2 linked regions of the Homo sapiens genome follow. The protein of the gene in region 1 interacts with the protein of each later gene in a biochemical or structural test. Each region holds a gene or a part of one and is shown in the gene's direction. Other genes may lie near its edges.

Region 1 (3,500 bases):
TCTTTCCTAAATTGTCTATTCATATGGTGCTTTTAAAAGTTAGATTACTTTTAGTAGATTTATTAGAGCCGCACAGTTTAGAGTCAGTAGTCAATTAAAGTCCCTACTTAAACTTCAGACTAAGATTTTTTTTTTATTTAATATTTTATTTTTTCTTTTTGCTTTCATGCAGACAGACATCTTGCAAGACTTTAAGATTCTTGGGCCATTTCTGTCAGGTTGTTCTGTGTTCTGTGCCTGCTTCCTCCCCATAGTAATTTCAAAATAGCTATCCTCACCTCTGTAAGGTTTCCAAAATCAAACTTGGGCTTCTGGCTAGCCTTTTCTAGGTCTTGATTTTTCAGTGCTTTCCAGAGGCAATTGTTTGGAACCTCTTGGCACAGTTTCTGTTTCTTTTTCCATGTACAGGCATAAAAGGTCTTTTGGTTGTTTTCTGGTAAAACTATCATAAAACAGTTCAAGCAAATGACTATTGGTAGTTTTGCCATTAACATGGGTGCCTTCTAGTCATTTTGTTTCCTGGTAAAACACACAAAACAGAGGGAGCAGACAGTTTGTACATCAGCATGAGTGTTGATGTGCTTTTTATTTTAAGCCAGGGAACACATTTTATGTTATTTATGACATCCTGTCCATGAATTTGTCAGGTGATTTTTGAGCTGAACATTCTCAGTAATAGCTTTAGTTTACAAAATACAACCTAGTCTTTCTGCAGATTTTCTAGGCCCACTTCAAATGCATTGACCATCAGATGGCATCTTGGTTCCTTACGTCCTTTCTGTGACTGAATGTCCATAATTCCACATCATACTGATCTTTCTTAGAAAAGGCAACAGTTACTTTCTTCTTTATTCCTTTTTTAATGCTTGTGAGGTAGTTGTTCTTGTTGATCACAGCAATGCTATTCTCTTATTCTTCATGTCATATTTAGCAGTTTTTTTCTAGTTTGTCATTTGATAATCTTGATTGGTGTATTTTGATGTACAGAAATTTAAAATTTATGTAGTTAAATCTTTCTTTAATTTCTATTGCCTTTGTATTTATAGCTCTTGCCTAGATAGTCTTAACTGTAGTATAGACTTTAACAGTGTTTTCTTTATTTTCTTTTTGTTTTTTTAGTTGCAACTACTGGCCCTTCAGTATATTATAGTCAGTCACCAGCATATAATTCCCAGTATCTTCTCAGACCAGCAGCTAATGTTACTCCCACAAAGGTAACAAAGGAATAATTTATACATTTATAATTATTTCCTTTTTAAATTGTTTAGGGTTCCTTCAAATAAATTCAAGAGAGCAGTTCACTATTAAAACTTTTATGTCCCTTAAAATGTAGATATTTTAAATTTATCTCCAAATACAGAAATTATCCTTCTTAGTCACCTTATTTTTGTGTTAATAAGTGTGAATATTTAGAATATTTTAAAAATGGGAGTGGTGGTGGTGGATCCTTCATCGTTCTGTTTTAACAGAAATAGAACTGTAATGCCCTTGCTGACCCACTATGTGGTAAGTACTTTCAGGCCTGATACAGCTATATATATAACAATTGATTGAAGACTCAATATTACAGTGGTAGTTGAATGTGACAGCTTTGAGGACAGAGTGTTGGGGTGCATTTAGACCCTTGCTCTTCTGCTTATTTTGACCACAGGCAAGTTTCTTAACCTCTCAATGCATCAGTTGCCTCATATGTAAAATGAGGATAATAATAATACCTTAATTCATAGGGTTTTTGAGGATATTAAAATGAGATAATAATGTAAAGTGCTTAGAACAGTGCCCAGCTGGCACATTAATAAATGCTCAATAAATGTTACCATCATCATCATCATCATCATCATCATCATTAACATCATTTGATAAATTAGGAATGAAGAAGGTATTTATTTTATGACTTTAGCTGTAGATTTTAAGATGCTATACATAATTTTCATTATATGCCAAGTATATATGCAAGTATCTTTGTAGTAATGTGGTTTTCTCTTAACCTACTTATGCCTAGTGCTCCATTATTGGAACACTAAGCTTATGGGAGTTATTTATATCCTACTGCTCAAGGTCATTGCCAAGGTCTGATTTTTCACACAGAAAATTTGCAGCCTCTGGCATAAACGGGTTAATGATGTGTACTACATCCCCTAATGAGATCTTCTTCACTTCATATTCATGTTTGAAGTTTGTGAGAATTGGTTTGCATTTAGTTATCTGTAGTTTTGTAGACAATCTACAAAATGTTTTAACTTTCTGTCTTTTAGGGCCCAGTCTATGGCATGAATAGGCTTCCACCCCAACAGCATATTTATGCCTATCCGCAACAGATGCACACACCGCCAGTGCAAAGCTCATCTGCTTGTATGTTCTCTCAGGAGATGTATGGTCCTCCTGCATTGCGTTTTGAGTCTCCTGCAACGGGAATTCTATCGCCCAGGGGTGATGATTACTTTAATTACAATGTTCAACAGACAAGCACAAATCCACCTTTGCCAGAACCAGGATATTTCACAAAACCTCCGATTGCAGCTCATGCTTCAAGATCTGCAGAATCTAAGACTATAGAATTTGGGAAAACTAATTTTGTTCAGCCCATGCCGGGTGAAGGATTAAGGCCATCTTTGCCAACACAAGCACACACAACACAGCCAACTCCTTTTAAATTTAACTCAAATTTCAAATCAAATGATGGTGACTTCACGTTTTCCTCACCACAGGTTGTGACACAGCCCCCTCCTGCAGCTTACAGTAACAGTGAAAGCCTTTTAGGTCTCCTGACTTCAGATAAACCCTTGCAAGGAGATGGCTATAGTGGAGCCAAACCAATTCCTGGTGGTCAAACCATTGGGCCTCGAAATACATTCAATTTTGGAAGCAAAAATGTGTCTGGAATTTCATTTACAGAAAACATGGGGTCGAGTCAGCAAAAGAATTCTGGTTTTCGGCGAAGTGATGATATGTTTACTTTCCATGGTCCAGGGAAATCAGTATTTGGAACACCCACTTTAGAGACAGCAAACAAGAATCATGAGACAGATGGAGGAAGTGCCCATGGGGATGATGATGATGACGGTCCTCACTTTGAGCCTGTAGTACCTCTTCCTGATAAGATTGAAGTAAAAACTGGTGAGGAAGATGAAGAAGAATTCTTTTGCAACCGCGCGAAATTGTTTCGTTTCGATGTAGAATCCAAAGAATGGAAAGAACGTGGGATTGGCAATGTAAAAATACTGAGGCATAAAACATCTGGTAAAATTCGCCTTCTAATGAGACGAGAGCAAGTATTGAAAATCTGTGCAAATCATTACATCAGTCCAGATATGAAATTGACACCAAATGCTGGATCAGACAGATCTTTTGTATGGCATGCCCTTGATTATGCAGATGAGTTGCCAAAACCAGAACAACTTGCTATTAGGTTCAAAACTCCTGAGGAAGCAGCACTTTTTAAATGCAAGTTTGAAGAAGCCCAGAGCATTTTAAAAGCCCCAGGAACAAATGTAGCCATG
Region 2 (3,500 bases), on another chromosome or scaffold:
CAACATGGTGAAACCTCGTCTCTACTAAAATAAAAATAAAAAAAAGAAAAAATTAGCCAGGTGTGGTGGCGGGTGCCTGTAATCCCAGCTACTCAGGAGGCTGAGGCAGGAGAATCTCTTGAACCCGAGAGGTGGAGGTTGCAGTGAGCCGAGATTGTGCCACTGTACTCCAGCCTGGGCAACAGAGTGAGAGTCAAAAAACAAACAAACAACACTAAATGCCTACTCTGTGCCAAGCACTATTCTAGTTGCAGATCATTTTTTTTTTTTTAAGAGACAGAATCTCACTATGTTGCCCAGGCTGGTCTTGAACTCTTGGCTCAAGCGATTCTCCCACCTCAGCGTCCTAAAGCACTGGGATTACAGGAATGAGCCACCATGCCTGGCCTCTGATCCAGGTCTCTTAACTCCCAATTTGATGCTCTGTTTACTTGTTCTCTATATTTAATAGTTTTCTTTGGAAAAGTGTTCACTCTTCTTCTTTGTGTTTCTGTGATAGATCCTGCCTAGTTAGGAGTTTGGAGATAAGGAAGTTTGAGAAAAACAAGAGGCTCTAGGACAATTAATCATGTCTGTGGCTCTGCTCAGCATATCACTTGGGTTGTCAGCAGAGCCACATGGACCTAGAATTGGCCTGTCATCTTTGGAAGGAAGTTGTGTTGCTGATTCTCTGCTTTGGCTCATTGGCTTGTTAGCCATTTGATGTAGATTATTTTGTGTGTGGGGATTTTTAATAAATCTTTCAATCTGAGTCATTTGGGAAGAGCAATGTTCTAGCTTAATGTATTATTTTGAGAAGTGATGTCCTCTTTCACGTAATGTTGGTCTCATGCAAGTAGGGAGCTATGCCAAATGTAGTATCTCTGCTGAACTTTGGGTCACCTTTTTAACTAATATGTATCCATATGATTTTAACTAATATGTATGCATAAGGATTGTGTCTCCTTAATTCCTAGTTACAATTATTTTATGTCATTTAGATTCCTTTTACTTATTCCATACTTGTAAAGCACTCATATAAACAATTTAAATGATTGTTTTTATTGATGAAAATATTTTAATTTTCTCATAAGCCTCCTGCTCATTTGTCAAATTTTTCTTTTCCTACCCATAGTTCTACTTTCTTCCAGGCAGAGCTGTGGATCAAAGAATTGTAAGTTATTTTTGGTATCATTTTTCCTTCTCAATCAGTTCATTTTTAGTTAGAAGAAATCAAACAATTAGCTAATCATCCTGCTTATTTTTTGCCAATAAGAAGTACCTGTTTAGGCTGGGCGCGGTGGCTCACGCCTGTAATTCCAGCATTTTGGGAGGCTGAGGCAGGTGGATCATCTGAGGTCAGGAGTTCAAGACCAGCCTGGCCTTCATGGTGAAACCTCATCTCTACTAAAAATACAAAAATTGGCTGGGCATGGTGGCACGCGCCTGTAATCCTAGCTACTTGGAAGGCTGAGGCGGGAGGATTGCTTGAACCTGGGAGGTGGAGGTTGCAGTGAGCCGAGATCACGCCACTGCACTCCAGCCTGGGCAACAGAGTAAGACTCCATCTCAAAAAAAAAAAAAAAGAAGTGCCTGTTTATACTTTTAAGTTGTTGGGTTTTCAAAATATTGTTGGAGTTGGAACATTTCTATACTTATGTTTATTAAATCTATAACAATTGTTGAAGCTAAATTAAATTGGAAAAATAGAGTTAGCTATTATATAATAGGGAAAATAAATGATCCTATTTTGGCATTTGTAAAACTAATTTATTGAATAATTCATATTTCTGGACTTTGCAAAATCACTGAAAGCATTTAGTCTCACTTAAGGAACTTAAGTTATCCAAACCCCTCGGTCTCGGTAATTTTTTAAAAATCTATCAAAAATGAAGTATTTGAATTAAACTTCAGTGATATCTTGTATTCGTTTCTCCTTTAGGGTTCAATCCCATTTTTGGATTTCCAGACTGAAGTTTCGCTTTCACTATAATCTTAAAAGCATGTTAAGAAAAGAACTGTGTGTTTACAAATGTTAACAAGTCATCTGTTCACATTTAGCAGCACACTAATATTTTTAGTAATTTCAGTAAAAATAGGTCGGGTGCAATGGCTCACATCTGTAATCCTAGCACTTTGAGAGGCCAAGGTAGGGGGGTCGCTTGAGCCCAGGAGTTTGAGACTAGCCCGGGCACTGTAGTGAGACCCTATCTCTATAAAAAATAATAAGTAAAAATGGTAGAGTAATTTCAGTAACATTATGTGGTTTCACTCTATGTCTTAAAATAAGGATGATAAGTTAGTGTAAGGATTTTAGACTTTCTTTGTGAGGGTCCTGTATTTAATATTCAGTGTACATCAACAATATGTTTCATAATGAGAGTGGTCTACATTTGGTCACGTTCCTTTTCATTTTCTAGAACTAGTGTTTATGATTCTCGAGCACGAGAAAGATTGCGCCAGATTGAAGAACAGAAGGCATTGGCCTTACAGCTTCAAAACCAGGTAAAAAAGAAAATTGGAATAATATTACAAATAAATAGTACATCAAAGTAGAAACTATTTTGGAAAGTTACCCAGATTTGGGTAATTGCTGTTGTAATTCCAAGATCGTATGGTAGCATAGCATGTTATGATATGTCGTAAATGTTCTTGGTCTGTCCAGTCAGTGCTACTCATTGTACATAAGACAAATATAGATAGTCCCCTACTTGTGATGGTTCGACTAATGATTTTTTGACTTTACAAAAAAGCGAAAGCAATGGGCATTTAAGCACGCTCTTTGACTTATGACAGGTTTATTGGGACATAACCCTATCATAAATCAAGGAACATCCACAGATTTCTTTATCCCACTTACTCTGAAGTTTTATCTTTCAGAGATTGCAGGAGCGGGAACATTCAGTACATGATTCAGTAGAACTACATCTTCGTGTACCTCTTGAAAAGGAGATTCCTGTTACTGTTGTCCAAGAAACACAAAAAAAAGGTCATAAATTAACTGATAGTGAAGATGAATTTCCTGAAATTACAGAGGTAAGTTACATACACTTAATTTCTACACTACTAAGTATCATGTTTAGAAAGAATCCCTCGGATGAGTTTCAAACATAAAAGCAATAGTGGTCAGGCACGGTGGCTCACGCCTGTAATCCCATCACTTTGGGAGACTGAAGCGGGTGGATCACTTGAGGTTAGGAGTTCGAGACCAGCCTGGCCAACATGGTAAAACCCCATCTCTACCAAAAATACAAAAATTAGCTGGGTGTGGTGGCATGCACCTGTAATCCCAGCTACACAGGAGGCTGAGGCAGGAGAATTGCTTGAACCCGGGAGGCAGAGGTTGCAGTGAGCCGAGATCATGCCACCGTACTTCAGCCTGGGTGACAGAGCAAGACTCCATCTCACATACACACACACACAAAAAGCCATAGAACACGTGTTATTTAAATTTTCTTGTATATTTCAGCTTTCGCTTATTTTATATACCAATCTGGGCTTTATTTTTAAAATATTGAAAA

The links.
Region 2: of the proteins of RANBP2 (region 1) and SENP1, one has a biochemical effect on the other in vitro, tested with the Homo sapiens proteins (one study listed by BioGRID).

What each region holds. Positions count from the first base shown.
Region 1 is NC_000002.12:108,760,982-108,764,481, forward strand, and holds part of RANBP2 (E3 SUMO-protein ligase RanBP2), read left to right. Parts: intron 1-1,119; coding exon 1,120-1,214; intron 1,215-2,255; coding exon 2,256-3,500. UniProt on the Homo sapiens protein: E3 SUMO-protein ligase which facilitates SUMO1 and SUMO2 conjugation by UBE2I. Involved in transport factor (Ran-GTP, karyopherin)-mediated protein import via the F-G repeat-containing domain which acts as a docking site for substrates.
Region 2 is NC_000012.12:48,064,580-48,068,079, reverse strand, and holds part of SENP1 (sentrin-specific protease 1), read left to right. Parts: intron 1-1,114; coding exon 1,115-1,153; intron 1,154-2,399; coding exon 2,400-2,484; intron 2,485-2,859; coding exon 2,860-3,015; intron 3,016-3,500. UniProt on the Homo sapiens protein: Protease that catalyzes two essential functions in the SUMO pathway.